7 linked regions of the Homo sapiens genome follow. The protein of the gene in region 4 purifies or fractionates together with the protein of the main gene of each other region. This does not show direct contact. Each region holds a gene or a part of one and is shown on either strand. Other genes may lie near its edges.

Region 1 (4,782 bases), on a different chromosome or scaffold from region 4:
ATATCTACATTTAATGTGTTGAATATATCTATTGGTATATTATTGGTCAGGAAAACAACCTTATTTTAATAGTACTCTCTAAAACATGATAGCTCTACAATGGAGGTATCAAAAACACATGAAATAAGAAACAGACACCTGCTTCCTTGATGAAACTGTTCCTCGAACACTTGACATCCTAATGCCTAAGAAATAAGTTTAAGCCTTAAAACTTCTTTTCCTATTCCTCTGGATCTAAATACTAACATTCTTATTTAGGTCAAAGTTACTTTCATTTGTCAACTCACTAATTTTCTGATTTCATTATTCTACAGTCTGAAATATTACAAATGTACCTTTGCCCGGTCCTTCTTTTATTTTCATCTATTTATCCCAAAAACAGAAATATTTTGAACACCGAGATTTAGTTTAATCCCCTCACTTATAGGTAATAAAATAACCCCCCAAAATTAAGAGTGTTTTCTAGATTTTGGCTACTAGAAAAACTTTAGTGTCATCATTCTCTTTCTAAAACACATTTTCACTGAGACTGGGGCTTCATGTATTTGCCAGAATCAAAGAAAAATACCAAGCTACTAATATACTGGTACCCTCAGGAACTCTACTGATCAAAGTAGTCTTTCCATCTTTTAAATACTATTTTTCACATAGCTAGCTAGGGCATGAAATGAGCAAATATACTAACATAGGAAAAGCTAAGTAGATGCAGACTAATTTTTCCTATTTGTCGCAATCTCCCAATGACTATTTTATCAAAGGGATCATAATTCAAAAAACACTCCTAAGATTCTAGAAACTTGTGTAATATTAGTGCTTTGAGAGGCCAACGGCAGGAGGACTGCTTCAGCCCAGGAGTTCAAGACTAGCCTAGCCTGGGCAACATAGAAAGACCCTGTCTCTACAAAATATTTTTAATTAAAAAAACAATTTTAAAGACCCTAGGAACTTAAAATTAATTAGCATAAATTAGGGTCCAGGTCTGCTTACCTATAATTAAAATTTATCATGCTTCTTTTATTAACAGAAAGAGGTCTTGAGGTATACTGAGAGTAAAACAGCCCTCTGTGGGGATGCAACCTCTACACCTTCAAAAAAAAGTATAGGAGTCTTATCTTTTAGAGGGAAACTACTAGCACAGGAAGATATACAAAGACATATTGTAAGTGAAAACACCCAGTAAGTAAAATGTGCTATTATTTCTTAACTTTTTTACATTTCCAACTAAGAGAGATACAAATTGAAAACTCATCAACCTCCTAATGCATAAAGTTTACAAAACAAATGCACAAAGTTTAGAAACAAATGCACAAGACTGAATAAACAGTATGACCTAGATTTGGGGAAATAAAGAGACTAGACGGTAATATACCAAATGTTAGCAGATACAGCCGAGCGGTGAAATAAATGTGATTTTTTTTAAATGTTCTTCTTTATACTTTTTTATAATTTTCCAAATTTCCCCACAGTGAACATTACTTTTATATTTAAAAAACTCATTAAAAAATAAACCATATGGCATCTAATAAGGGTTCACTAAGAAGGGCTACGTTGTCGAAGTATTACCGGCATTAATCACCATTAAAGGGGTGAACACCTCTCACTTTCCACTATTAAAATGCTGCCGTTTAATGCCCTATTACTTTTCTGCTGCACCCTCAACGATGTATGAACTTCACTATCTCCTGCCATTTCATTTCTGCATACAACATGCTTTTAATTTTTTCTTCTTAAAATATGGTAAAAGTTCTCACTAATCCTCAATATTCCACTTTTTAAAATCTACCTCTAAATTTCGTCATAACACAATTAGGGGGAAAATTGTTTTGCCCACTAATTACAACTTCATTAGGGCACCATCCCTTTGGCTAGGGTAACGTGAAGGCCGGGTAAACTACACGTCCCACCATGCATTGCTGCCTTGTTCAGAGTAGGTCTCTACGGAAACAGGAAAAAAAAAAATTCTACAAGTCCCACCTGTTACTTCGTTTCTAAACACCTCCTGCACTTTCGGCTCCAACACCAAACAAAAACAAAAGCCTCGTGATCTCTCGTCTGCTCCGGGAGCCAGACAAACAGGGGGCCCGGGGTCACAGGCACGTCCGCTGTAACGGGTAAATTCTATCCAGCTCCAGCGCTCCCCTCTCCTTTCCGGGGCTGGATGCACGCACAAGCCTTCTCCTATCTGCATCCAATGGGGGCTCTCCAGCCGCACAAGGGAGAAGAACCGGTTACCGTGCAAGCACCACAGACTTCCCCGTGCCGGGGCGAGGGCTACCACAGAGCGGAGGTGATATCGGCTCGACCCCAAAAGACAGCCTCAAAACACTGAGAGGACTCGCCGCAGACGCCGAGGGACGCCACGGCCCCGCGGCTATCACGTTCCGCCGGGCGCCTCCATTCCCACAGGGATCGCAACCCCGACACTAACCGCCGCCCTCTCCGCGCGGTTTTGTGCCCCTTCAGCCGGGTCCCTGGGCCAGTGACCTCCCTTTCCCTGCGACTGGCGGGCGACAAGGGAACAAAATCCTCCCGGCCTTCCCCTTCGCTCCCTCCCCCTTACCGTCTTGGCGGCCTCCGCCCAGGTCCTGCCCTTCTTCCTACGTCCCTTTTCCCTCATGTCGGGTCTTGAACTGACTGGGAGGCTCCCGTGTCCGGGCTCCGGCCGCCCTCCCTGCCTGCTCTGCCCTGCGCTGCTTTTCCCGCGGTGCCGGGAAAGGTGGGAGAAAAGGGAAGTCAGACCGGGGGGGCACCCAAGCAGAGGAAGCGGCGGGGGTGGTGCGCGGGGGGGTCTATGGGGCGGCCGGTCCTCTTGCTGCCGTTGCCACTGCTACCGCCGCTGCCATATTGGGTTCTTACTGTACAGGCTGCCGCTACGGTCATGTGACCGCTCCCGCGCGGCCGTCACTACTGTACGCAGCCGGCCGCGCGAACGAGCGCGGGCGCGCCCCCGCCTCCCAAGCCCGGCCGCTGAGCTATCGAGCCGGCGGTCTGCGGTACCTCGCCACGCCCCCGCCCTTCCGGTCTCCGCCTCTCCGCAGGAGCATGCGCGCCAAGGAGGCCCCGGCAGTAGCTGTAGTCTGACGCCTGGCGCTCACACCTACAGCGAATATCTGCCTGCGGAAGCGGAACCTGTGCCATCCGGGAAAGCTTACTGAGCGGATCCCGCCTCTTGCGAGGCGCTGCACAGGCTGTGTAGACCTGGGGAGCTGAACTCTTCCCTCAGTGGGTGGCTCTGCCAACTATCACTTTAGATCAGCCCTGCGTTTGTGTTTTCTCATTTATTTGCATTTTTACAGAGGTTATCTTTTTGAAGATAGGCAACAATTCTCGTCTGCCTATTAACCCCATTCGATAGGCGAAGCAACTGAGATTGAGTGACTTGCCAAGCTCATAAGTCTGGGATGTAGAGAAACCAAAAATCAAATTGCCAGCTCAGAGCCCTTTCCATCTCCCCAGAATGCCTCAAACTTAGGTGACTTTGTTTTTAAGGCCACCAGTAACTGCATCCATGCTTTTACATGTGAAGCTACTCATCAATGACAGAAATGGTGTCTTCTTTATTTCGGTGAGCTCAGTCCCTAGCATAGTGCCTGTACATATCAGGCGCCCAGTAAATATTTGCTGAATGATTCACCTATTTCTGTGGTCAGAGACCATTATTTGTAGTATCCGTAACAGCTTTCTGAAAGATCCAGAATGTGGCATCTTCTCTTACATCATCTACACCTTGATACCTTGCAAAGTAAGAAGAATGTAGTAACAACTGCTGATCTCCCAAATCCACCTGCTTCCAGAAGCTGCTTCCAAACAATCCAGTAAACTTACTATAGTGTGAAATAGGACTGAGGATTGGATTGCCTCTTGGGAGGAAAGACAGGTGAGAGCAATACTTAAAGTTTATGGATGCGTTTCAGAAATTCATGGACTCCCTAAAATTATGAACTATATTTTGTGTGTTATATGTGAATTTTTTAAGAGGATTCATAACTTTTCCTCCATTTTTCAAAAAGGATCTGTTGTGCAAAAAAAAAAGAGAAAAAGATATTAAAGGGAGTTTGAGAGGCCATCTAGAAGTATCTAGATACTTCCTTATATTTCCGTTCAGTCATGGATCAAACAGCCTATTTCAGCAATTGATATGGATATATTTTCCCAAATGTCTTTGGTAATTCATAGCCTTATGCATTACACAGGTAGTATGTACCACCTCCCTCCAAAGCTTATGTCTGTAGTCTAAGAAGGCCTTCTCGCCAGGTGCGGTGGCTCACGCCTGTAATCCCAGCATTTTGGGAGGCTGAGGTGGTCAGATCACTTGAGGCCAAGAGTTCAAGACAAGCCTGGCCAACATGGAGAAACCCCATCTCTACTAAAAATACAAAAATTAGCTGGGCCTGGTGGCATGCGCCTGTAATCCCAGCTACTTGGGAGGCTGAGGCAGGAGAATCGCTTGAACCTGGGAGGCAGAGGTTGCAGTGAGCCCAGAGATCGCGCCATTACACTCCAGCCTGGGCAACAGAGCAAGACTCTGTCTCAAAAAAGAAAGAGAGACAGAGAGAAAGAAAGAGAAAGAGAGAAGAGAAAAAAAGGTCTTCTCCATCCCTGGCTGTTGAGCTGAGTACAGCTTATCATCCAGTCCTGTTGTTTGGTCCTGGAGCCCCAACTGGTTTTCAGACCTTACTAGGGTCCTTACTTTGCATTTCTGGAGCTCTATCCCCAGGTTTGAATTTCAAGGGTAGGGATTGTGATGTTGTGGTTCCTACTTCTTAATCTTCCACAGATACA
Region 2 (4,007 bases), on a different chromosome or scaffold from region 4:
CGAGCTGATTCCCGTGCCGGGGCTTCCAGGCCCTCCTGGCACAGAAGCAGGGCCAGGGGCAGGAGCAGGGGCAGGGGCCACCCCCCGCTGGGCACTCACGTTGCAGCTGTGGTTGATGAAGCGCGCGAAGTTGCCGCACTTGGTGGCGTCGATGATGGTGTCATGGTCCACCCGGAACATGTAGCTGCTCCCGATGCCCTCGTCCTCATAACGCTTCTCCCGCATGTCTGCGATCACCTGGCCACAAAAGGGGGTCAGTCTGGCTGGGCCGGCCCCATGCCCACCCCGGTGCCCATCCTGCCGGGCGGTGCCTACCTGACGGATATTCTGGCCCACGTACTCGATGACCATCTCGTCAGCCGCGATGGGCTCCATGGCGAACAAGCCCCAGTCGTGAATGTGGCTCTTGCAGAACTTGAGCTTTTTCTTCCGGAACTGTGGGAGGGAAGAGGGGGAGAGGTGAGCCCCGGTCTCAGGTCCTGCCGCCACCCCGGCGATCTGGGTGAAGCCCGGCCTCACCTTGAGCTGGTTGAACTTGAGCAGGTCACTGTCACAGCTGCCAGTGAAGGAGGACAGCAGGCGGCGCTGCTCCGAACGCCGCTCCGAGCCTGCCCGGGTGGAGGCGTGGGGCTGTGCTGGGATGCTCATGCCCTGCAGTGGACGGTGTGCGGGGCTCAGCGGAGCTGGCCGTGTCCTCGGCGGTCCCACCCTAGGCTCTGGATCTCTGTCATCCCCAGTGTCCTGGGCTCCTTGCTCTGGGCTTCTCCACACCTGTCGGTCCCTAATTGTCACCGCTTCCCTGCCTCCTCCATCCCATCAGTATCTGAGCGTCTCAAGCTCCTTCTATCTTCAAAACGACGAGACTCACTCTTGCCTGGCGCTGTCTTTTCCCCATTTCAGCCGAAAGTTTTGTCTACCCTGACCCCCTCCTTGGCTCTCACCCAGACCCCTCTCACCCCACAAGCGTTCAAAATCGGGGATCCTTCCGAAACCCTTGTGTCACGTCCTGCTCTTGGCCTCCCTGGGCCTCTGCCCCAGCCATTAACCTTTGGAGCATCCCAGGCCTCTGCCCCAAGTGCCCTCCCAGGTGAGGTCACCCTGCTGTGACCTTCAGTCACCACTTCTCTCCTGGCGATGCCTACACTTAGGTCCCCGGGCCGGAGATCCCCATCCTAAGCTCCGCCATACCCACATGCCCACCAAGACCTCTCTGCCTGGGTGTTTTCAGAACCCGCAGAACTCAAGCTGCCTCGTGGTGATAGCATATCAGCCTCCCCATCTCAGGCCTGGTGTCCAGCTTCCCAGCACCCCCGACCCCAGCCACACCCTGGGCTGTCACCCCCCGCCCATCCCTGTCTCCTGTACCCAGGCCAGCCCTGGTCCTGTCCATCCCACTTCCTCATATTCTTCCACAGCTAATGGCTCCTCGCGGCCCAGCTAAGTCCGGCACATCCGGTCTGGAAACCGCAGCAACCCGAACAGTCTGCCCTCAGGACCCCTGCACCAGCTCCACACCACCCCAGCTCCTCTCACAACCTCCCTCTGCTGCCTGTCACCCCAGGAGACAGGTCACTTACCACCACAGTACCCCCGACCCTGGTGGCCTGTGCTGTCTCTCCCACAAGTGGCCTCTCCCTTCCCTTCCTCACACCATGGAGCTCCCTGCTGCCTCAGGGCCTTTGCACTGCTGCTGTCCTAGGGAGGCCTGCTGGGGTCAGTGAGCCCCTCTCTGGTTTTAACTTTTTATGGAAGTCGCTTTTTCACTTCTCTGTAGTCTCTCTGGCATCCACATGGCGCCTTCCCACACTTCGCCTGGGTCTGACCCTCTCTGACTCCCCTTTGACTTGGTAATCCCTAACCCCTCTCCTGTTTTCTCCATCGCATTTTCCCTGCCTGGAATTACGTGCTTCTTTCTTCACTTGATTATTTCCTATGAGTCCCCATTAAAATATAAATTCCAGCTGGGTACCGTGGCTCACACCTATAATCTCAACACTTTGGGAGGCTGAGACGGGAGGATCGCTTGAGCCCAGGAGTTCCAGATCAGCTTGGGCTACAGAGTGAGACCCCGTCTCAATTTTTTTTTAATTTAAAAATAAAAATAAATAATTAAATTCCACGAGGAATAGGATTTGGTTTTGTTCACTGCTATAGACCCAGAACAGTGCCCGGTACACAGCATGTACTCAACAGATATTTACTGGATTAAAAAAAGAATGAATGAGGCCATGCGATGTGGCTTATGCTTATAATCCCAGCAGTTTGGGAGACCAAGGCAGGCGAATTACTTGAGGTCAGGAGTTCGAGACCAACCTGGCCAACATGGCAAAACCCCATCTCTACTAAAAATACAAAAAATTAGCCAGGCATGGTGGTGGGCACCTGTAATCCCAGCTACTCAGGAGGCTGAGGCAGGAGAATCATTTGAACCCAGGAGGCAGAGGTTGCAGTGAGCTGAGACTGTGCCACTGCACTTCAGCCTATGTGACAGAGCAAGGCTTTGTCCCCCCCTAAAAAAAAAACCCAAGCAAAAAACAAAAAATGAATGAACTTGCGGAAATACAGCTCCGTCACATCCCTAATTAAACCCTTTGGAGGTGCTCCAGGGCCCATGGGACTAAGGCAAACTCCTTCCTTCTCCTAGGCCCCGCCCACCCGCCTCTCCCCTTCCACTTGCACCCTCTGTGTGCCAGCCCCTCTGGCCTCACAACTCCTCCCTCTGCCTGGCACCCCTCCATGAGTGCCCTGGATCCCCGTGGCCCAGCCCAGCAGGCTCTGATGTGTCCAGGAGCCCTGGCAGTACCTGGGTGTCTGCGGGGGGCTCATCGGTGCTGGCACGGCTGCTGTTGAGGTATCTGAGCTTGTCCTTCTTGTCGATGGTGTAGAAGCCCTCACTGCGGGCACAGCCCGTCACGTGCTCGCGGATGCCATCGTCCCGTTTCTTCTTCTTAGCTGAAGAGAGGCTGGTGGGTGGGTGTGGGTCAAGGGCCACATGGACATTCTGAGAGCCCCTTCTGGTCCCTTCATAGACTGGTCCCGCCCATCCTCAGACCACCCTTCAGGGACAGCGATGTCCAGTTCTACTGCCCACTCCCATGCCACCTCCACGTGGCTGCCCGCTGACCAACCCTGCTGACGGTCAATACCTAGTTGCATGGCTCTAGGTGTCTTTTTTTTTTTTTTTTTTTTTGAGACAGGGTCTCCTGTTGCCCAGGCTCGAGTGCAGTGGTGCAATCTCAGCTTACTGCAGCCTCAGCCTTCTGAGCAGCTGGGGCTACAGGCGTGCGCCACCACACCCAACTAATTTCTGGATTTTTTTTGTAGAGATGGGGTTTTGCTATGTTTCCCAGGCTGGCTTCAACCTCCAGAGATCAAGTGATCCATCCACCTCGGCCTCCCAAAGTGCTGGGTGTTTTAACAACTTTCTGCTCAGTTTCCCATCTGTAAATTGGGGTGACAGTGATGCCTCTCTGCAAGTGATGAAATATGCTTATGGTCCTTAGCAGAGTTTTTTTTTTTTTTTGAGACAGAGTCTTGTTCTGTCACCCAGGCTGGAGTGCAGTGGTGCGATCTTGGCTCACTACAACCTGTGCCTCCCGGGTTCAAGCAATTCTCCTGCCTCAGCCTCCAGAGTAGCTGGAATTATAGGCATGTGCTACCACACCCGGCTAATTTTTGTATTTTTAGTAGAAATGGGGTTTTGCCATGTTGGCCAGGCTGGTCTCAAACTTCTGGCCTCGAGTGATCCGTCCGCCTCAGCCTCCCATAGTGCTGGGATTACAGCTGTGAGCCATGGTGCCCGGCACTTGAGCAGAGCTCTTGACACAAACTGAGTGCTCACAAATCAGTCTAATACAGCAGGGATAATGAGAGGTCTAGCCTCACTGGCCTATGTGAACAGCCAAGCCTCATGAAAGCCTGGTGGTGAAGAGCCTGGACTCTAGAGCCAGGTTTGCCTGGGTTCAAATCTCAACTCTGCCACCTGTAGCTGTGTCTTTGGACAGGTC
Region 3 (4,007 bases), on a different chromosome or scaffold from region 4:
TGGCCAACATGGTGAAACCCTGTCTCTACTAAAAATATAAAAATTAGCTGGGGGTGGCAGCAGATACCTGTAATCCCAGCTACTCAGGAGACCGAGGCTGGAGAATCTCATAAACCTGGGGAGGTGGAGGTTGCAGTAAGCTGAGATCACACCACTGCACAACAGCCTGGGTGACAGAGTCAGACTCTGTCAAAAAAAAAAAAAAAAAATTGTAACTACACTTTGGGACCCCTTTCAACTACTACCCAACTTCTCTCCTTCCTTTAACTCCATCATCAGAGCTTGTTAAACCCTTTTGTCCTCACAGGACAACAAAATTGTTTCTCAGATATCCATTTATGACCTTCTTTCCAATAAATTCAAAAGGCTTTTTCCACTCATCGTTTTCCTTTGGTTTGAATACTAGACCATTCTCTTCAAGACAACGCAGGATTGTTGGGCGTGGTGGCTCACGCCTGTAATCCCAGCACTTTGGGAGGCCGAGGCGGGCGGATCACAAGGTCAGGAGATCAAGACCATCCCGGCTAACACGGTGAAACCCCATCTCTACTAAAAATACAAAAAATTAACCAGGCGCGGTGGCAGTGGCTGTAGTCCCGCTACTCCGGAGGCCGAGGCAGGAGAATGGCGTGAACCTGGGAGGCGGAGCTTGCAGTGAGCCGAGATCGCACCACTGCACTCTAGCCTGGGCGACAGAGCAAGACTCTGTCTCCAAAAAAAAAAAAAAGACAACGCAGGTTCTATGTCTCAACACTCTTCCTGTTATTTCTCTCTCTTCATTCAAAAAATATTAAGTTTCTACCTTGTGAAAAGCACATTTTTCTTTACCCACACTGTAGCTGCCTCTGATTCTAAAGGCCCCTGAAACCTATTCTTCAAACTTGTCTCACAGCTCAACTGCCTTCTAAGGTACCACCTTTCAGTCCAATCTCTTTCATGAAACACACTGCCATGACTGACAGTAACATCTATAATATTAAATTGTTTTATGTTGTTGTTGTTATTAAGTCAGTTAGAAAAGCCTACATGTCTACTGAAAAATATGCTTATAAGTGTATCAGCAGAATATGTGGAAATTTACTAGCAGAGAAACCCAGACACAGAAAAGATATCAAAAAAAAAAAACTAAAAATAAGTTTATGAAGGACATTCTCCAGTTATCTATGCATATTCATTAAGACTAGACTAGATACACCCAGGATCAAATAGAGACCCAACTGATAATGTTAGAAGGCTAATGGTTAAAATTTGGAAAAAGGAAAAAAAAAAAAAAAGAACTAGCAAGCCAGGCGCGGTGGCTCACGCCTGTAATCCCAGCACTTTGGGAGGCCGGGGCGGGTGGATCACGAGGTCAGGAAATCGAGACCATCCTGGCTAACACGGTGAAACCCCGTCTCTACTAAAAATACAAAAAAGTAGCTGGGCGTGGTGGTGGGCGCCTGTAGTCCCAGCTGCTCGGGAGGCTGAGGCAGGAATGGCATGAACCTGGGAGGCGGAGCTTGCAGTGAGCCGAGATCGCGCCACTGCACTCCAGCCTGGGCAACAGAGCAAGACTCCGTCTCAAAAAAAAAAGAACTAGCATATAAAATAGATTAGGTGAAATCTTCTGGAATTTAAAGGTTAAGCAGGGATAGAGAGGGACTATGAAAACAATACTCTTCAAGGAGTGCCACTGAAACCATTACAAAGCTGCCTCTAACACTGACTCCTGTCTCCCAGATTAAGGCACTCACAGCCTACCTTAACTACAGAAGGGATAAAGGTGTATATATGAGATCAAATAACTGATGGTACTCTATTTTGGAACAGAAAAGTCCCTGAAAACTTGAAGTTCTCTGACTACCAGTTGTCATCCTATACTCTCTTCCTTCAAATCACACATTTCTAAAAGCATTATTTAACAACACTCTATAATCCTGAATTTCCAACTACCAGTAAAATTAATGTATTTAAGTCTTCCATTCCATGAAATCAAGATCAATTATATCTCTTTAACTCTGTGATCAAAGCTGAACTCATCTTTCTCCCACTCAAATTAGCTCTCTTCTACTACTACATCAATAGCTCACAATTTTGAAATTGTCTTTAATTTTTTCTTCTGTCTTTCAAAGAGATATTCCAAGATGAACGGTTTCAATAAACTTCCACAGAAAACAGTGTTATTAGCTACACAAAGTTAGGAAACCTTAGTAAAAAGAAAACATTTTAGGGGTTACTAAAGATCTCTACTAAGCAAAGCATTTTGCCTATTTATTCATACTTGTGTTCAAATTCAGACATTATACTATTTTTTAAAAACCCAATCAAACCTCATACCTTGCCAAAAAAGATTTTCCAGATCCCGGAAGACCTCTGAGAAGAACAAGAACTAGTCCAACGTAAGATGTCTTCTTTCTTACAACCTGAGAAACTGGGGTTTCTTGTACTTGATAAGCACTTGTTCCATCTTTATTTCTCCATACTTTTGTTGGGGAAGTGTGAGAAATAACTGAGGGTGGAAATGTGTAGTTGACAGATCTCCAGTGTGCAGCTGTGGTTACAACAGGAGCTACAAAGCCATGGTTTCCTTGGAAGAGGTCAAAAGCAGGAATCATTGGATTCCACATCGGTGGAGGTGGCGGAGGAGGCAACAGCAATGGGAGAGGAGCAAGTACCGGGCAGTAACTCACATCCTTCCCCTTAGTTGGCAGTTCAGGATGTTTGTGTGGCTTGAAGTTGAACCCTTCGGAAGGTAGAAACACATCAGAGACCCGAGTAGATTTCTGATCCCCACCTGTACCTGGTAAATCAAGCCCTGGAAGGTTTAAACAAGCCTGAGGTTCACTGGCATCCAAATCTACAGGAGCTTCAGAGAATTGAGCCTCAACGCACTCAGATTCTAAAAGTTCTTTCTGTTTTTGATTGAGACTGCTACAACCTGCGATGGAGTCACTTGCTACATTTAAAGAACTACTGAGAAGAGAATCTTCCGGGTAGTTACTTTCCAAAGCCAATGTGTTATCCTTTATAAAACACTTGGACTCGTTCAAAACTGAATGTGAAGGTAATGGGTTTAAACTTAAAGTAGAACCAGAATTCTCTAAATTTTCACCGTTCAAATTCATATTTTGTGTAGAAAAAATGGGAGTCATATTACTTGAATCAGGATTTATAAACTCACTTGAGTCATTAAAACTATTAACATCTTGTGAAGGCAAAAATGAGTATACTTGGTCATCAGGAGAAGAGTTCAATTTCTCAAAAGCATTCTGTATTAAGGAATCCAGGTCTTCAGTTAGCTGCATGTCCAAAAATGAATCCATTTTTGAATCTTCACTCTCTTCTTCAGGACGTTTTTCCATTATTTTACTTTCTGCTGCACCTACTTGGTTCTCAGAAGCAACGAAACTTTGTGAAGATGATTCTTCTATCTTGGTATCAGTGGCAGATAATTCTAATAGACAATCCATAGCATTTTCAACTGTACAACAACAAGAATAATAACAACAACAAAAATATAGACAGAGAAAACAGATTTAATAATTTTATTAAAATCCAGCTAAAATTATATTGGATTTTGCATTGAACAGAATATAAATGTACAATATTCATGTTATTTTTAAAAAATTAATATTTTATTAACATACCAAAGTCTGTAGTAGCAAAAAGTCTGAATGATGGAGACATGCAATCCTATTCTTTCAGGAAAACAGTAATAAACCAAGCTAATAAACTATCATCAAATAAATATTATTTGCTGAATTGAGTAAATACATAAATATCTGTAATTGGACATATTAGGCTTATTTATAAAAGTCCTAAAGCCTGTTGTTTAACAAATACTTACCTATTGCATGCAAACTTTTAAATATTAAGTATTTTATGTATTCTCTTAGTAAATCTAACTTATTTACATGATCCACGCTATGAATTTCACTTACTACAAAGAATATTTGAGCATGTACTGCATATCAGAAATATTTTGTAAAAAAAAATCTTTAATATGCTCAAAGAACTTTGCAATCTAA
Region 4 (3,553 bases):
CAATTTTTGTTTGCAAAAATGTTTGTCTTGAGTTCTCAATAACCTTTGGATAGGAGATTTTACAAGAAAACCACTTAAAAATATTAGTGATTAAATGTCCTGAATAGCATTTAGACAAGCATTCTTGCTCCATAATTAAAATAGATTTGGCATTTTTCCCTTAAATTATAAATAAGAGATGATTACTTCTAGTAGATAGCCAATATTTACCAAATTATTAACTAATCGAAAAAAGTATCTCCATGCTTTCAACCTTCAAACTGTTTCTAAGAGGATAACATACTCTAAATCTGAAAGAGTATGTGATTAATGCAATCAGCAGGGCATTTCACTAGATAGAATAAGCTCTCTTTAGCCATATATATATATAATCTTGATTTACAGCATTCTCTATGCTTCTTCACTAATGCTTCCTGGAAAATTCATACAAAGAACAATATGATTAAATGAGAGTATGTGTCAAATGCGTCAGAAAATGGAGGTACAAATGCAAGGTGCTGTTATTACAAAATGAAATACTATCATTAATTAGCAGTGACTTGTGAATGCTAATATAGATTGCTATATTTTACTAGTGATAGGGAATTTGCAGCACTCCTCCCCCAAATCATGTCATGCAAGCAAAAAAGCATGAGATTTCAAAACTGCCTAACATTAAAAAATAAGTCTCTTAATTTATTTGCATTCTAAAATAGAGCCCTTCATCCTGAATCCCCTTTTCCATATAAAATGGTACTAAGTATTGTACAGGATTTGTCAAGCCCATATAACAGTCCCTTTAAAATCTTAAGTTCAATCACTATTTGTTTTCTACTATTATACTACATTTTGGCAGCAATTGTTTATTGGTCTGTCATTGCAGTAATTGCAACTTAACAATAAACCAGTCTGACATTTTAGGTCTTGAGGATACATACCATATATATTTCTTTAAAAATAATCATACTTTTTGTAAGCAATACTTTACAGTAGACACCTCAAAAATCTACCATAGATGTGAAACTTAAAACGAGAAAAATTTAAGTTCTAAAGATTTATACATATATATCCAGATTTCTATATATATTATATATACATACATAAGTATATATAAAATATATATAATCAGATTTCAAAAATGAACAAAAACTGGGCACTGTACATAAAGTCTTTTTTAAAACTCAAACAATAGAAAACTCTTTAAACATTAAACAATTTTAATAAAAGTTTCTGTACAATGCTAAGCAGTTTTATTTACACATAGAAAATGTAATAGGAGTAGTGTTTGAAATTACAGAACTCCTTAAAATTTCAATGGCAGGTAAATCTGGAAAAAATAACAGCATTCCATTCACAAATATTTTCAAGCAATAAATATGTATTTATAAATAGTGTAAATTTACATCAAGATTAGAAACAAAAATCACAAATCTGAAGTTTATTCCTTAGTCTATGTGCAATCCATTACCTTTGTGACTTGGCTGTTAATTTTTTAAATTTTATTTAGGAACCAAAAGTGTAACCATCATGGTCTCAAAACAAGACAGAAAAACATAAAAGCAGTAAAAAAGTGTCTTACCTAACTTTTCACATTAAAAAAAAGTTGACCAAAGAAAGACTTAAAATTGCTAACTACCTTACAAAGAAATGACCAGCTAGGCTAGTATTTTTTTTCCAAGGAAAATTCTGAAGGGGGAAAAGACAGATGAAAACAAATTCATCAGCCCAGAAATAGAGAAATATAAAAGAGGTTGTCTTCAAGTCAGTAGTCTGTAAGATGTTGCCAGTTTTGTCAGATATATACAAAACATGGAAATTATTATTTTTTTCTGAAGTACAGCTCATCAGCTTTGTGAGAGTCCTGGAGTAGGAGCAGTACTCTCTCCCGTCCAGTTGGTTGACACTCCGCACTTGGAAGGTTGCATAGACACAGTTTTCAGCCAGCAGCCTTACGAGATAGCTACAAAAACCAGTGGTGCAGAACTGGGTTATTTCCTGAATAGCAGAAAAGGTCTCATTTAATGTCCATGGAACAATATCAAGATGAGGCGGATGGTAATGGAGGAGCCTGAAAATAAAAGTAAGGTAGGTTATTTTGATATACAAATTGTTAATAGCTCATGGCTACAAACATATAGTCTGCTTGTGAAGTTAGGGGAAATAACTCTCAAAAAGTTCAACAGCCTGCTATGCAACATAAAAGTACAGCCTACCTTACTATCTCCCATTCAGCCAATCTTCCTAAGAATCTAAGACCATTATCCTACTCAGTGTACTTGCAATTTTCTATACTTCTTCACCAATTAGTCAAAAACTCTTGGAATGTTATTACGTTTACCATTTTTTAAGATTGCTTAAAAAAAGGGGGCTTCTTGCAAAATAATTTAACAAATTACAATTTCACTAGTGACTGCCTTCAGAATCTATCTCAGCTAGGTAATATATTTTCTTCAACATATTTCAGATAATTTTCTTCTTCAAGCAATCTTGAAGACCATTCAAGTGAAAATATCAGAAAGTAAATTTCAAAAAGTTAGTTTCTGATCACATATGTGTGGGAGACAAGTACTGGAGAAAATCAACAATTCATAAATTATCTCTGTGTTTCTATTCATAAAGCTATTGATCTGCGAAAGTAAAATGCTTCCCCCAAGCATCTGCTGTCTGAAATTAAAAACTGTGCAATTTATAAGTATACTTGAATTTCATAAGGTTACATAATATACCAGGAAGTTAAGCTCCATTAAATACTCCCATGAGGTTAATACTTCTGGCAAGGACAAAATTTTAAACAAATACAATTAGCTCTAAAAGCAGAAGTATATTTAAAAGCACACTTACTGATTCATTTTGTGGGCTCTAATAACCTACGTACACAAACATTTTATCAACTGAGATAAAATGACATAAAGGATATGATAGTGTTCTATCTAAAGCACGCAAAGATTTTTAAATGTAATTGTTGTAAAATTATTTAGGCTGGTCTCACCCAGGAAAACTGAAAATGATATATGCCAATTTTATAGGAATAAATACTTGGAAATGGAGGGGGGAATGATATGAATATACCCTCATGCAATATATAATGAGCCAAAGGAAAATTTAAAATATTTCATTACCTCCTACTTATCAGGTGGCAGAGCAAACACTGCTGCTTCATAACCCAGCTAACTATGTACTCACATGTTGATTTGACTTACTAATGTAAATTGGTCATAGACTTGCATCAGGTCCTCCATTTTGTACTGTTCTAGCACCACAAAGTTTTCCAAGTTTCCGCTTGTTTTTCGTGCACAATCTTGGCAATGTACTATGTAGGTCTTTCGTGAATTACTCTCATTAGTGACAAAAAGCAGATCAAAAACCTCCACCTGTTTTATACAAGAGAAAAACGTATTCAATAGAGATAGTGGTATTTACTGTACTGCTTTAGTATAATCATGGAATTCTACTTGAATGAAATTGTGGACAGTGATCTCTGGTTAAGAGTAGGTGGTAAGAAAAACATGGCTGTGTTTGAGAATCTTTAACAGACCAGGTTTATTTTGCACCAAATCCAAAGACATGGGTAGTA
Region 5 (4,007 bases), on a different chromosome or scaffold from region 4:
TTTGATTTGCATTTCTTACTTTTAAGACAAATCACTTTAGATTTTTGAGTTTTGGTTAAAAATCATCCATATACATAAAAATGAGAAACTCTCATGTTCCTCATCTCTAATGGCCTTTCTGGATCTAAAGTTCAGTTCTTCCAAGTTCAGTTCTACCGAGTTCAGTTCTACTGAGAAAGGCCATCACTGACTCAAATTTGAATGTGAGCATGGAATGATACAGCTAAGACCAATTATTTAGAGAGAAGAAATGGTTTTCATGCAGACACATTTTAAAACACACAAATAAAATTCTTACCACTCAAATTTTGGTAAACATTTTATAATTTATATATAAAATCTCAGTAAGAAACCATGTAAAATGACAGAAATATCCACCTTACATTAAGAGTCAAAATAAAAAAAAAAACCCATACACACTGAATGTAAATTTTAATTATAAAACAAGAATATGAACAAAACATTTTAAAATAATCTCAATTATTTGGCAACTCATCACATCATTGCAAGAGACAAATTTGATCGTAAGAAGTTTAATCTTATGAAAAACTGAAGTTGGACAGTTTGCTCATATGAGAGTTAAAACATGTTTAAAAAAACACTTGGCAATAAAGCCAGTTTCTATACTGAAATAACTGTGTATAAAACAACATAAAATCCTGAAACTGGATAGACAGGAGGGACCTAATCTTGAATGCATTTCTCTTCACTGAAAAAGACAATATGGAAAGAGTATTGGTAGAAGCTTCAGAACAGCACAGAAGAGGAATGAACACAGAGAAGAGGAATGAAGAGGGATTTCTGCTGCAGGTGACTGACGCAACTTTACCTGAACCAGAACCTGTTTTGTGTCAACGTGGCTGGTAGTAAAGTCACAGATGCAAGTATAATCTAAAAACAAGTTACATTCTTAAAAAACAGAGCCACAACTGTGAACAGAAAAGCAATGAAGAACCTTTCTTTAGCTAAACTACTTTACTTGGATACATGCGAGTTTCTGCCAGATCATATTAAGATAGTTACAGAGCAGGCAGAGTCCTAAAAAATTTTCTACTAATGACTGCATAGCATTTAAAACCCTTTTTATTTAAAAAAAAAATAAAGTAAAATAAACAGATATATAGTAAAGTTCACAGATAAGTTTTCTCTGTAAAATAAATAAAGTGTTCATTGATTAGCATCATACATAGAGTAAAATACAACCTATTTTTACATGTTTATATACTATACACAGATTACCAGTAGGCAGCCTGGCGTCTGATGGGCTGGAGGGGTTTGCATTCATGATGTGTCACATTGGGAAATCCCAATTTTGAATGTTAAAATATACAACTACTTTGTTTTGAGTTCAGATACAAAGTAAACTTATTGTCCTTTATCTGAAATAAATGTACATAATATCTTCTATGAACAATAGTTTATAAAGCTGTTTAAAACATAACAAGAAAAAGCTTGCACCTAGGGACTTACAGCACATGCATATCTTTTTCCTGGTTAAAGAGAAGCCTATGGCCACCAAGGCATGTCTCTTTCCTCTCCACCGTGTTCCTCCATAAGCCTAGGGCAGCAGTGGTCAGGATTATCGCTTCGCTTTTTTCACAGGGGCTTCCTCCACCCTTTGCTGGCCTCTTGTTCGGGCCCCAGGAGGGCTGACTTCTCTCTTGCGCTTGATAGAAGGGGAGAGCTGTGTCTTTGATCTGCATTAAGCAAAGTCAAGGCAATGGTGAGGTTTAAAAGCAGCTGCTTCAAATAACTTGGGAGTTCCTTAAAAAACAGAAGAGTTTTGAACTTGACAGCTAAGAAGAGAAAAACCCAGTAACATTTATACATGAAAAGGAGCTACCTCGCGAAGAGCTTGAACTAACTGGTTATTTGCTGTCAACCTCACACACAAACACAGGACACTGGAAGAGAAGTTTGAAGCCTGTGCTCTGGTTCCAGCTCTACCACACTCTAGGTGCTGATGGTGCTCAAATCCACTTCCTTCTCTGGGCCCTAGTTCTTTCATCTAGAAAACAAAGACATCAACAGCGGGTCCCACCAATATACAGACTGTCCCAAGTTCAAACAACTAGCAAGAACACAGCAGGACTGCAATCTAGGTTGGACCAAGTGCAAAATCATGTTTCGTAGCACAGTATTACAGAAAATACCTGTGTTAGAAAAGGCACGGGAATTTCAGAAGAACATTCTAACCAATCTCCCTATCACCAGCATACCCTGTTGATATAGTCTGTGATTAAAATTATTTGTTGGAAACTCCAATTAATCATGTTACTGTCCTAGAGATGTATGAAGTTCCTCTTGGGTCTCTGATGCTTTCAGGAGAAAATCATCCAGAGCCTTTTATAGTTCTGCCTTCTACTTGTGCACCATCTGGGCCTGTAGTCCTGCACCTTCCACATCACAAAGCAAGATGCCCCATCTTTGGAATCCCCCACAGAGAAATGTGACTTTATTGATATGAAGACTTTAGGTCTTTACCACAGCATTTACCATTGTGATTCATCTGCTGTGTTTTTTCAAACTGCAAGTTACAATCAATATTTTAAAACAACATGTTAATAGGACACAACAGAAAATACCACTCATATCACATCTATTAAATTTGACTCATGAAATTTTGTTTCAGTTACAGCAGCAGGAATGTGAGCACCAGCTGTATTGCAAAATATTCTTATAGTGGGTTGTTGCCAAAAAAGTTTGAAAGTCTTATACACATATATCTCCCCCATTAGACACGATGATTCTCTAGGGCAGCTGCTGAGATTTATTCATTTTTCTAACTCCAGTGCCTAGTGCAATGCCCAACACATGGCAAGCGGGCAGTAAATGTCCTGTCAATGAATCAAAGAGTTGGAAAACCAAAATTGCAGGAGATGGAGAAATGGGACTCTTAGTGATATGAAGACACGTCTTCCGTTTCTTGTTTGACAGCAAAAGTAAATAAACTGAGTCAAAAATTGTTGCAGATGATGTGGTTTTGACATGTGTTGACAATGACTGAAAATGTGTTTGTTGATAATCCATTTCAAACTGTTTCCATGGAAAGCCACCAGCCACTCAATGAACACCTCTTCAGTAAAGGTGCCGTGCGCAGTATTGTGCTGGGGGCCAAGTGGCAGCCAACAGAAGCTCTGAGTCAGGCTGCTTCTCCCCAGCCATGTGAGCTTCGTAGTTTATCCAGGCCCTTCTAGTCCACCCAGAATGTGGTCTGTGAGGAGGGGCATTGGTCACTGAGGAGCTTGTTGGAAATGCCAACTCTCAGGCCCCAGCCTAGACTTACAGACCCAGGATCTGCATTTTACCAACAGCCTCAAGTGATTTGACTGCATGTTCAATTTTGAGTAGTATGCATGGAAACCTTCCTGAGATTCTTTCCCTCACATATAAAATAAGAGTAACTATTACAATTCACTCACTGAGGGTTAAATGAGAGCATGTATGTGAAACTGCCTGGCACTATAGTTTGCTTTCGTTTCTAGAATGTGCGGAAAACAGCACATACATACAAGTATGCTGTGAAGATGAAAATGTGGTAAGAGGTCAAAACAGTTTTTGTGTACAGTGAAGAGTCTTTTATTTTTGAATATGATAATGTATAGAAAGTATGACAAATTCCTATCTCAAGAAAGAAACCTAGAGCTCAGAGGGGTAAATAAAAGGAATATACCAAACCAATGCTATGTGGCATCTCAAGTGCCCAGTACTGACCAGAAGTGCAGCAAGAAGAGATGAAAATGGGCTGAAGCGGGACGGAAAGGATCTGACTTACTAGGGGTGCTGGTGGTGAGGACACTCCTCACTGGCTCAAGCAAAGGCAAGAAAGGAAGGCTCAGGACCACCTCTGGGAAGCAGTAAGACCAGTAAGGCTGCAGTGAAAGGTGTAAGCTGGCAGGGGCCGTGCCTGAAAGAGGAAGCTTTATCACCTCATCACCTCTCCAATGCTCTAGCTAAAACAGAAATGATTCTGGGCTGTTAAATGCTTTACCACACTGCCTTGCCTT
Region 6 (4,007 bases), on a different chromosome or scaffold from region 4:
AGAAACTCACTCCCTGGGGGGCTGGAGTATCAGAAAAACAGAATTAACATAACCAGAAAGAACAGAAAAATCACAACAGCTAATACCACTTGCCACATTGCTGTAGCTTTAAGATTGAGGGAGGGGGACTAGAGGCCAGCCTGAGGTCTCCTGGGTCAGTTGGATCTAGGCGTTCTCCCTCTTCTTCTAGATCTGTACCCTAAATACCTTTGGTGTCTCCATGACTCAAAGGCAAATAGCTTAAATTTAGCTCTTTCTTTCAAGGGTTCAAGGAGCGAGAGCAGAGCCAAGTCCTGGAGACACTGAACTTGCTGTCGCAGTGGAAACCGAAATGTGCAGAGTAGGGGGCAGGGACGAGGGGGAAAGGGACCACTCAGGTCATTTTTAAGATGAGAGAGTAGCCACAGGGGAACAGAGTAGGAGTCTAAACGAAGTAAAGCATGACAGGTGTAGGTTTCCCTACACAGTGTTCTGTTTAAGGGCACAGGAAAAGTTACAGAATGACAAAAAAGGTGAGCAAGGAAATCTGCAGGGTGGCTGTTTTGAACCCACCACCGGTTTAATCTAGAGGAGGTCCAATCACTTGGATGTGGGGTATGGCAATCTAAATGCCCACAACTTCCATGGTGCCAGAGATTTCAATCAGATGAATGTTCTTCACACTCATTCCTGTAACAACACCTTACTTGCCTCTGGCAGAAAAGACAGGACTGTGGTGGCCAGCCTGAACAACCGATGAGAAATTTAACCTCTTGTGACAAAAAAATCAGCACTAAGGACCTTGAAGAAGTTTTTACCCAGACGTCTTGGGCAATACCGACGTCCTGACATGCAAAACCTTGACAACCACTAAACAAGACAATAAACACTAAGCAGAAAAATAAACATAAAACAAACAATTTGACCCTAGGGCAGGTAAACAGTTTTGACAGTTTTTTCCTTTTTTTTTTTTTTTTTTTTTTTAGACAGACAAGGGGGGGCCCTCCCGTGATGGGATCAGTCAGATGCCCACCTGGTCACTTCCCCTGAGGGGACTTGGGCTCCTCTTAGCATTGGCAGGCCGGTATAAACCCCCGGCTTGGATCGAGCTATGTCCGATGCTGCCTTAAGCCTTGTGAGGTCGCCCCAGAACTGCAGGTGAGGGCCCACTCAAACTGTGTAGCTTTCGCCGTGGAGCTACAAACTGGAAGACAAATGCAAGCCTTTGTCCTCCCACAGTCACTCACCATTCACAGAGTTTATAACAGTTTTTTTTTTCTTTCCTGGAGATTCTCCAAGAAACTTGAATAAGAGAAAGAGAGAGAGAGAGAGAGAGAGCGGTCTGCCAGAAACCAAGGCTCAGCTCCCCAGCATCCTGGGTCTTCAGCTAAGTCCAAGGGAGGGGCCTGATCAGGACCACTTCCCACCTAAACCAAGACACAGAGGCGCCTACCAGAAAACCAAGGCTCAACCCAGTAGCGTCCTAGAGTAACGGGCTGAGTCAAAAGAGGGATGCCCTCGTCAGGGCCACTTCCCTCTTACCAGAACCAGAACAAAGTCAAATCTGACCTACCTGACCCCGGGGTGAGAAGCTGAGGACTCAGATGTTGAATTTTAAGGCACTGACATGGTAGTCGATCCACTCTCCTCCGGAAGGTGGTCACTGTTTGGGGACCTGAAAATTCTTTCCTCAGGTGGTAACCCCCTCTGAGCCGGCCGTCCTTCCGGGGGAGCCCGGAGCAAGACCAACTCTCACCCAGTGGCATTAATTTCTCGCTGGGGCCTCCATTATGTTGTACCCGGGGTGTTAGAGAAAACGCCACACTTTGAGACTAATTAAGAGTCCTTTACTAGCCGGTGACCGAGAGACGGCTAATGCTCAAAATTCTCTCAGCCCTGAGGAAGGGGCTTGATTAACTTTTATACCTTGGTTTAGGAAGGGGAGGGGGGGTCTAGTTAAAACAATTTTACAGAAGTTAGGTAGTCAAAAAGTTAAAAGGATAAATGGTTACAGGAAAGTAAACAGTTCCAGGTGCAGGGGCTTTATGACTATTACAAGGTGATAGACGTGGGGCTTTGGGTGTTATCAATCAGATGAATTCTTGGGGACTGTGGATATAGCTTGCCACAGTATCTTATCAGTTAATTGCATTCTTGGATGTGCTGGGAGTCAGCTTGCACAAGTTAAGTCCTTGAGGAAGGGGCTGCCAGTGAAAGAGCCAAGATGGAGTCTGTCTGGCTCTCTTAGCTAAGGGAGAGTCTAAAAACAGAGTTAGTAAAAACCAGTTTGGGCATTACAAGTGTCCCAATTCAGTCAGGCTTTCTTCTTTCGTTCCATAAAGTACCAAATGCCTACCATGTGCCAGTCCCAGTGCTAGGCTCTGAAAATACCGCATGACCGAGGTAGACCTGGTTACTTCCTGTCTGGAGAGTACAGGGTAGCAAGGGAATCAGACATTAAACACAAGCATGCAAGTGAAAGTGTAAATACAACTTGCAGTGATTACTATGGAGAAGACAAAATGTAATAATAACGGGAGTCCTGTTTTAGATAGGATGGTCAGGGAACACTTCCTAAAGGAGACTGCACTTAAGCTGCAACTTGAGAAGTTACAGCAAGGGGCAGGGGAAATGCATTCCAGGCAGAGGGAATAGTCCCTGTGGATGCCTGAGTTGACACAGAACTTCCCGTTAGACAGGTCCAGTGTTCAAGAAGGGAGGCTTACCATGTGTCAAACACTGTGATGAGCATACAGAATATAGTGTTTGCGTACTGGTCGGTGGGACATCACCATCTAATGAGGGCCATAAACATAAGTAAGATCTTCATCTCAGCTGCTCAACTCTGCCTATGTAGGGCAAAAGCAATATGTAAATGACTGGGTATGGGAGGGTTCCAGTGAAATTTCATTTACAAAAACTGGGAGGTAGGGGTCAGGTGTGGTAGCTCATGCCTGTAATCCTAGCACTTTGGGAGATCAAGGCAGAAAGATCACTTGAGCCAGGGAGGTCCATGGTGGTACCACTGTACTCCAGCCTGGGCGACAGAGTGAGACCCCAAAAAATCCAGGAGGTGAGAGATGGGCTAGATTTGGGCTGAGGGCGGTAGTTTGCAGACTCTTGCTCTAGTCTAGATCAGTATACATTTTATGTCTTTACTCAGTGCATGTAACTCCAATATAATTGAAATAAACGTTTTACAAAACAGTGCTTACCATTGCAATATATGATAGCTTGATACTTTCTATTTCATTTTTTAAAATGTCCGTAATACTATTCACTAAATTGATCCAAGGCTCTATTCATGAGGTGTGACTAGCAGTTTGAGAAACTTGCTCAGTCATGGAGGTATGTACATTTTTAACTTGACTGGGTATTATATATACTTATATAAGGCATTTGGAACCTTTTCAGAAGGAGACAGAATATGAATAAATACCTCATTGTGTGTACGTTTTAAAATACAGATTGGATCCAATCGCTCCCCTGCTTTCCAGTCTTTTTCTAGGCCTCTCTTATCACTCACTCTGTGCTTCCTGTGCTCTAACCACTTGAAATTGCTCTGTTTCCCAAATGTGCCATGTCATGCTTTTTAAAAATGTGTCTTTTAGCCTTTTAGGTACCTTTTTATCTAGTTTGTTCCTTTTTTTTTTTTTTTTTTTGAGATGGAGTCTTGCTCTGTTGCCCAGGCTGGAGTGCAGTGGTACAATCTTGACTCACTGCAACCTCTGCCTCCCGGGTTCAAGCAGTTCTCCTGCCTCAGCCTCCTGTGTAGCTGGAGTCCCCGCCACCATGCCCAGCTAATTTTTGTATTTTTAGTAGAGATGGAGTTTCACTATGTTGGCCAGGCTGGTCTCGAACTCCTGACCTTGTGACCTCCCTGCCTCAGCCTCCCAAAGTGCTGGTATTACAGGCGTGAGCCACTGCACCCGGCCAGTTTGTTCCTCTTTTACTTTGTTTAGTGTATTCTTATTCTTCAAGGCTCATACCAATTGTTGCTCCATTAATTATTTTAACATATTTATGAG
Region 7 (4,007 bases), on a different chromosome or scaffold from region 4:
TTCTGATTGTCATAGAGTGGCATAGGCGTTGATGTGACCGTCTCCACATCTATTGGGACGTCTGATTCACTGTAAACAGGTGAGGAAATAGGACCGGGCCACACATACTTCACAGGTATTTAACAATCATCTGGTTGACAAAAAATGTATCTTTAATACAGTCAGCTTTAAATTACGCATAAGCACATTATATTCACAAGAAAATTTTGATCCAAAGTCATCTTTCCCACACTTGTCTAGATCTCTGCCCTCTCAGACATGATGGTATGTACTGGAAGAACACAAAGTCATTTTTTCAATGAGTCTATATAAAAAATGATAAACATCTATTTTTTTTTTAAGATAAATATGGGCCAGGTGCACTGGCTCACACCTGTAATACCACCACTTTGGGAAGCCGAGGCAGGTGGATTGCTTGAACTCAGGAGTTCAAGACCAGCCTGGGCAACATGAGGAAACCCTGTCTCTACCAAAAATACAAAAATTAGCTGGGCATGTGGCACACACCTGTGATCCCAGCTACTAAGGAGGCTAAGGTGGGAGGACTGCTGGAACCCGGGAAGTCAAGGCTGCAGTGAGCCATGATTGCATCACTGCACTCCAGCCTGGGTGACAGAGCAAGACCTGGTCTCAAAAATAAATAAATAAATGACAAATACAGCCAGACACAGTGATTCACACCTGTAATCCCAGCACTTGGGAGGCTGAAGCAGGAGGATCACTTAAGCCCAGGAGTGAGCTGGTCTCAAAAAATAAATAAATAAATGACAAATATAGCCAGGCACAGTGATTCATACTTGTAATCCCAGTACTTTGGAAGGCTGAAGGAGGATTGTTTAAGCCCAGAAGTTCAAGACCAGTTTGGCAATATGGCAAAACCCCGTCTCTAAAACAAACACAAAAATTAGCCAGGCATGGTGGTATGCGCCTGCAGTCCCAGAAACTGAAGTGGGAGGATGGCTTGCTTGAGCCCAGGAGGTTGAGGCTACAGTCAGCTCTGATCATGCCACTGCACTCCAGTCTGGGTGACACGGCAAGACCCAGTCTCAAAAAAAAGGACAATATATTCCATAAGCAAGTTGATTTGGCTCAAGCTAATATTTTTAAAAGATCACTTTCAATTTTTGTTTAGTAGGCTACAGCTCAGGAGTGGAATTTAGAAGACCAGCTAGGCAGCCACTGCAGTTGACTGAGATGGGCCAGAAATCATGAGAGCTCGTTTAGGGACAAGAACAGTACAAATGGAGAAAAGTGGCTAACAAGTTGATTGCCTAGATACTGTTCAATACAGTAGGTATAAGCCACACACGACTACTTAAATTGAGGCAGGTGGATCACGAGGTCAGATCGAGACTATCCTGGCTAACATGGAGAAACCCCGTCTCTACTAAAAATACAAAAATTTAGCCAGCCATGGTAGCAGGCATCTGTAGTCCCAGCTACTCAGGACACTGAGGAAGGAGAACGGTGTGAACCCAGGAGGCGGAGCTTGCAGTGAGCCGAGATTGCGCCACTGCACTCCAGACTGGGAGACAGAGCGAGACTCCATCTCAAAAAAAAAAAAAAAAAAAAAATTACTGGGCACAAGGGCTCACAAGGGCTCAGGCTTGTAATCCCAGCACTTTGGGAGGCCAAGGTGGGCAGAACACTTGAGCCCACAAGTTCAACAGTGTGGGCAACATGGTGAAACCCCGTCTCTACTGAAAATACAGAAATTAGCTTGTGGTCCCAGCTACATGGGAGGCTGAGGTGGGAGATCAACTGAGCCTGGGAGGCGGACGTTGCAGTGAGCCAAAATTGCACCACTGTACTTCAGTCTGGGTGACAGAGACCTCGGCCCAAAAAAAAAAAATTTAAATAGAATTAAATATTCAGGCTGGGCGTAGTGGCTCGCGCCTGTAAACCCAACATTTTGGGAGGCCAAGGCGGGTGGATCACCTTAGGTCACGAGTTCGAGACCAGCTTGGCCAACATGGTAAAACCCCATCTCTACTTAAAAAAAACAAAAATTAGGGTGTGGTGGCACGTGCCTGTAGTCCCAGCTACTCAGGAGGCTGAGGCAGGAGAATGGCGTGAACCCGGGAGACGGAGGTTGCAGTGAGCCGAGATCACACCACTGCACCCCAGCCTGGGCAACAGAGCGAGACTCTGTCTCAAAAAAAAAAAAAAAGGCCGGACATGGTGGCTCATGCCGGTAATCCCAGCACTCTGGGAGGCAGAGGCATGCGGATTGCCTGAGCTCAGGAGTTTGCAACCAGCCTGGGCAACATGGTGAAACCTCGTCTCTACTAAACACAAAAAATTAGCTGGGTGTGGCAGCGTGCACCTATAGTCCCAGCTACTTGGGAGACTGCAGCAGGAGAATTGCTTGAATCCGGGAGGCGGAGGTTACCATGAGCCAAGATTGCACCACTGCACTCCAGCCTGGGTGACAGAGCAAGACTCCGTCTCAAAAAAATAAAAAAATAAAAAATTCAGTTCCGTAGTGACGTTAGCCACATTTCAAGCATTCAACAGATACACGTGGCGGCAGTTACCACACTGGACATCCCAGGTATAGAACATTCCTATTATTACAGAGAGTTCTGTTAAACAGTGCTGGTCTAGAGTTTTAAATTCATACAAACTTTCCCTTTCATTAGCAAGTCAACTGGTAGTTATTTAATATATACTGTAAAGTCTATGATTTCCTTTCTGTATGATTATCTAAGACAGATGACCTGGAATGCACATACCTTAGCTACTTAGCTCATTTTGTACAGAGCCTAGAACAGAAACAAATATAAATGAACATCTAAAGGTCTTTCATATTTTAAAATGAGATCTAGCTGGGCATAGTGGCTCACGCCTGTAATCCCAGCACTTTGGGAGGCCGAGGCAGGTGGATTGCTTAAAGTCATGAGTTCAAGACGAGCCTGACCAACATGGTGAAACTCCGTCTCTACTAAAAATATTAGCCAGGCATGGTGGCGGGTGCCTATAATCCCAGCTACTTGGGAGGCTGAGGCAGGAGAATTGCTTGAACCCAGGAGGCAGAGGTTGCAGTGAGCCAAGATTGCGCCATTGCGCTCCAGCCTGGGCAACAGAGACTCCGTCTCAAAAAAAAAAAAAAAGAAAGTAAGAAACAAATCCTAGTGCCCCAAGGGTCCTTCCCCACTTTATGATACATTGCACCAACTTTGTCACCCCAAATACTATGCCAAACAAACTGGTCTAGTGGCTACCTGCCAAACTTTATGTTAACTTTTTGACTTCAGTGACCTTACTGCATCCATTTCCAATGACTGAAATAATTACATCATTATGAAATGAAATGAAATCATGTGCAGCTAGATTTGGTGGTGGGCAAAAGAGCTGATTATCTTCTCCAGGCCAGACATTGAGCTAGTACTTGGATATGTGTAGCTAAAAGAGAACTCTTGATTTCACCATCACAAACCTATCCTCCTCCAGTCTTCCCTAACTCATGGCACCACCCAACTGCTCAAGCCAGAAATCTGTCATCCTAATTTTACCTTTCCCTTTAACCCTGGTTCTTGCTCTTCCTTCCAATTCACCATAGCAGATCCTATTAACCTATTCACTCTACCTATGAAATACATCTCAAAGTCATCTATATTTCTCCATTTGTACTGTTCCTGCCCTATACAAGATATCACGATTTCTGGCCCATCTCAGTCCATTGCAGTGGCAGCCTGCAGCTGGTCTTGTAAGTTCTACTCCTGCACTATAATATACTCAACAAAAAATCCAAAATGATCTTTTTAAAGTATAAATTGAATCTCTAGTTTAAGATCCTTCAGTGACTTCTTACCACTCTTAGAATCAAATTCCTTCACGAGGTAACCCTTGCCAACTTCTCCCTACCTCCCACTTATACCCCTACTGCTATTATATTCTGGCCACACTGGCCTAAAAGAGTTCTTACAGCATGCCAAATTCTCACTTTCAGGGTCTATATTTGGAGACAGAGATTATAAAAGGAAACAATTTTCTAAGTACCAAAA

What was found.
Region 1: the proteins of KDM6A (region 4) and ASXL2 purify together in Homo sapiens (affinity purification with mass spectrometry, with the first as the bait; one large-scale study listed by BioGRID). This does not show direct contact.
Region 2: the proteins of KDM6A (region 4) and SETD1B purify together in Homo sapiens (affinity purification with mass spectrometry, with the first as the bait; one large-scale study listed by BioGRID). This does not show direct contact.
Region 3: the proteins of KDM6A (region 4) and N4BP2 purify together in Homo sapiens (affinity purification with mass spectrometry, with the first as the bait; one study listed by BioGRID). This does not show direct contact.
Region 5: the proteins of KDM6A (region 4) and BOD1L1 purify together in Homo sapiens (affinity purification with mass spectrometry, with the first as the bait; one large-scale study listed by BioGRID). This does not show direct contact.
Region 6: the proteins of KDM6A (region 4) and DET1 purify together in Homo sapiens (affinity purification with western blotting, with the first as the bait; one study listed by BioGRID). This does not show direct contact.
Region 7: the proteins of KDM6A (region 4) and KANSL3 purify together in Homo sapiens (affinity purification with mass spectrometry, with the first as the bait; one large-scale study listed by BioGRID). This does not show direct contact.

The regions. Positions count from the first base shown.
Region 1 is NC_000002.12:25,875,606-25,880,387, forward strand, and holds the start of ASXL2 (putative Polycomb group protein ASXL2), read right to left. Parts: upstream 2,883-4,782; 5' UTR 2,618-2,882; coding exon 2,561-2,617; intron 1-2,560.
Region 2 is NC_000012.12:121,824,163-121,828,169, reverse strand, and holds part of SETD1B (histone-lysine N-methyltransferase SETD1B), read right to left. Parts: intron 2,971-4,007; coding exon 2,804-2,970; intron 652-2,803; coding exon 520-651; intron 436-519; coding exon 316-435; intron 238-315; coding exon 100-237; intron 1-99. UniProt on the Homo sapiens protein: Histone methyltransferase that catalyzes methyl group transfer from S-adenosyl-L-methionine to the epsilon-amino group of 'Lys-4' of histone H3 (H3K4) via a non-processive mechanism.
Region 3 is NC_000004.12:40,101,528-40,105,534, reverse strand, and holds part of N4BP2 (NEDD4-binding protein 2), read right to left. Parts: intron 3,461-4,007; coding exon 2,317-3,460; intron 1-2,316. UniProt on the Homo sapiens protein: Has 5'-polynucleotide kinase and nicking endonuclease activity. May play a role in DNA repair or recombination.
Region 4 is NC_000023.11:45,109,876-45,113,428, reverse strand, and holds the end of KDM6A (lysine-specific demethylase 6A), read right to left. Parts: intron 3,351-3,553; coding exon 3,180-3,350; intron 2,048-3,179; coding exon 2,018-2,047; 3' UTR 650-2,017; downstream 1-649. UniProt on the Homo sapiens protein: Histone demethylase that specifically demethylates 'Lys-27' of histone H3, thereby playing a central role in histone code. Demethylates trimethylated and dimethylated but not monomethylated H3 'Lys-27'.
Region 5 is NC_000004.12:13,568,432-13,572,438, forward strand, and holds the end of BOD1L1 (biorientation of chromosomes in cell division protein 1-like 1), read right to left. Parts: intron 2,009-4,007; coding exon of another isoform or gene 2,005-2,008; exon of another isoform or gene 1,704-2,004; intron 1,698-1,703; coding exon 1,580-1,697; 3' UTR 307-1,579; downstream 1-306. UniProt on the Homo sapiens protein: Component of the fork protection machinery required to protect stalled/damaged replication forks from uncontrolled DNA2-dependent resection.
Region 6 is NC_000015.10:88,536,405-88,540,411, reverse strand, and holds part of DET1 (DET1 homolog), read left to right. Parts: intron 1-4,007. UniProt on the Homo sapiens protein: Component of the E3 ubiquitin ligase DCX DET1-COP1 complex, which is required for ubiquitination and subsequent degradation of target proteins. The complex is involved in JUN ubiquitination and degradation.
Region 7 is NC_000002.12:96,631,414-96,635,420, forward strand, and holds part of KANSL3 (KAT8 regulatory NSL complex subunit 3), read right to left. Parts: intron 131-4,007; exon of another isoform or gene 70-130; coding exon 1-69. UniProt on the Homo sapiens protein: Non-catalytic component of the NSL histone acetyltransferase complex, a multiprotein complex that mediates histone H4 acetylation at 'Lys-5'- and 'Lys-8' (H4K5ac and H4K8ac) at transcription start sites and promotes transcription initiation.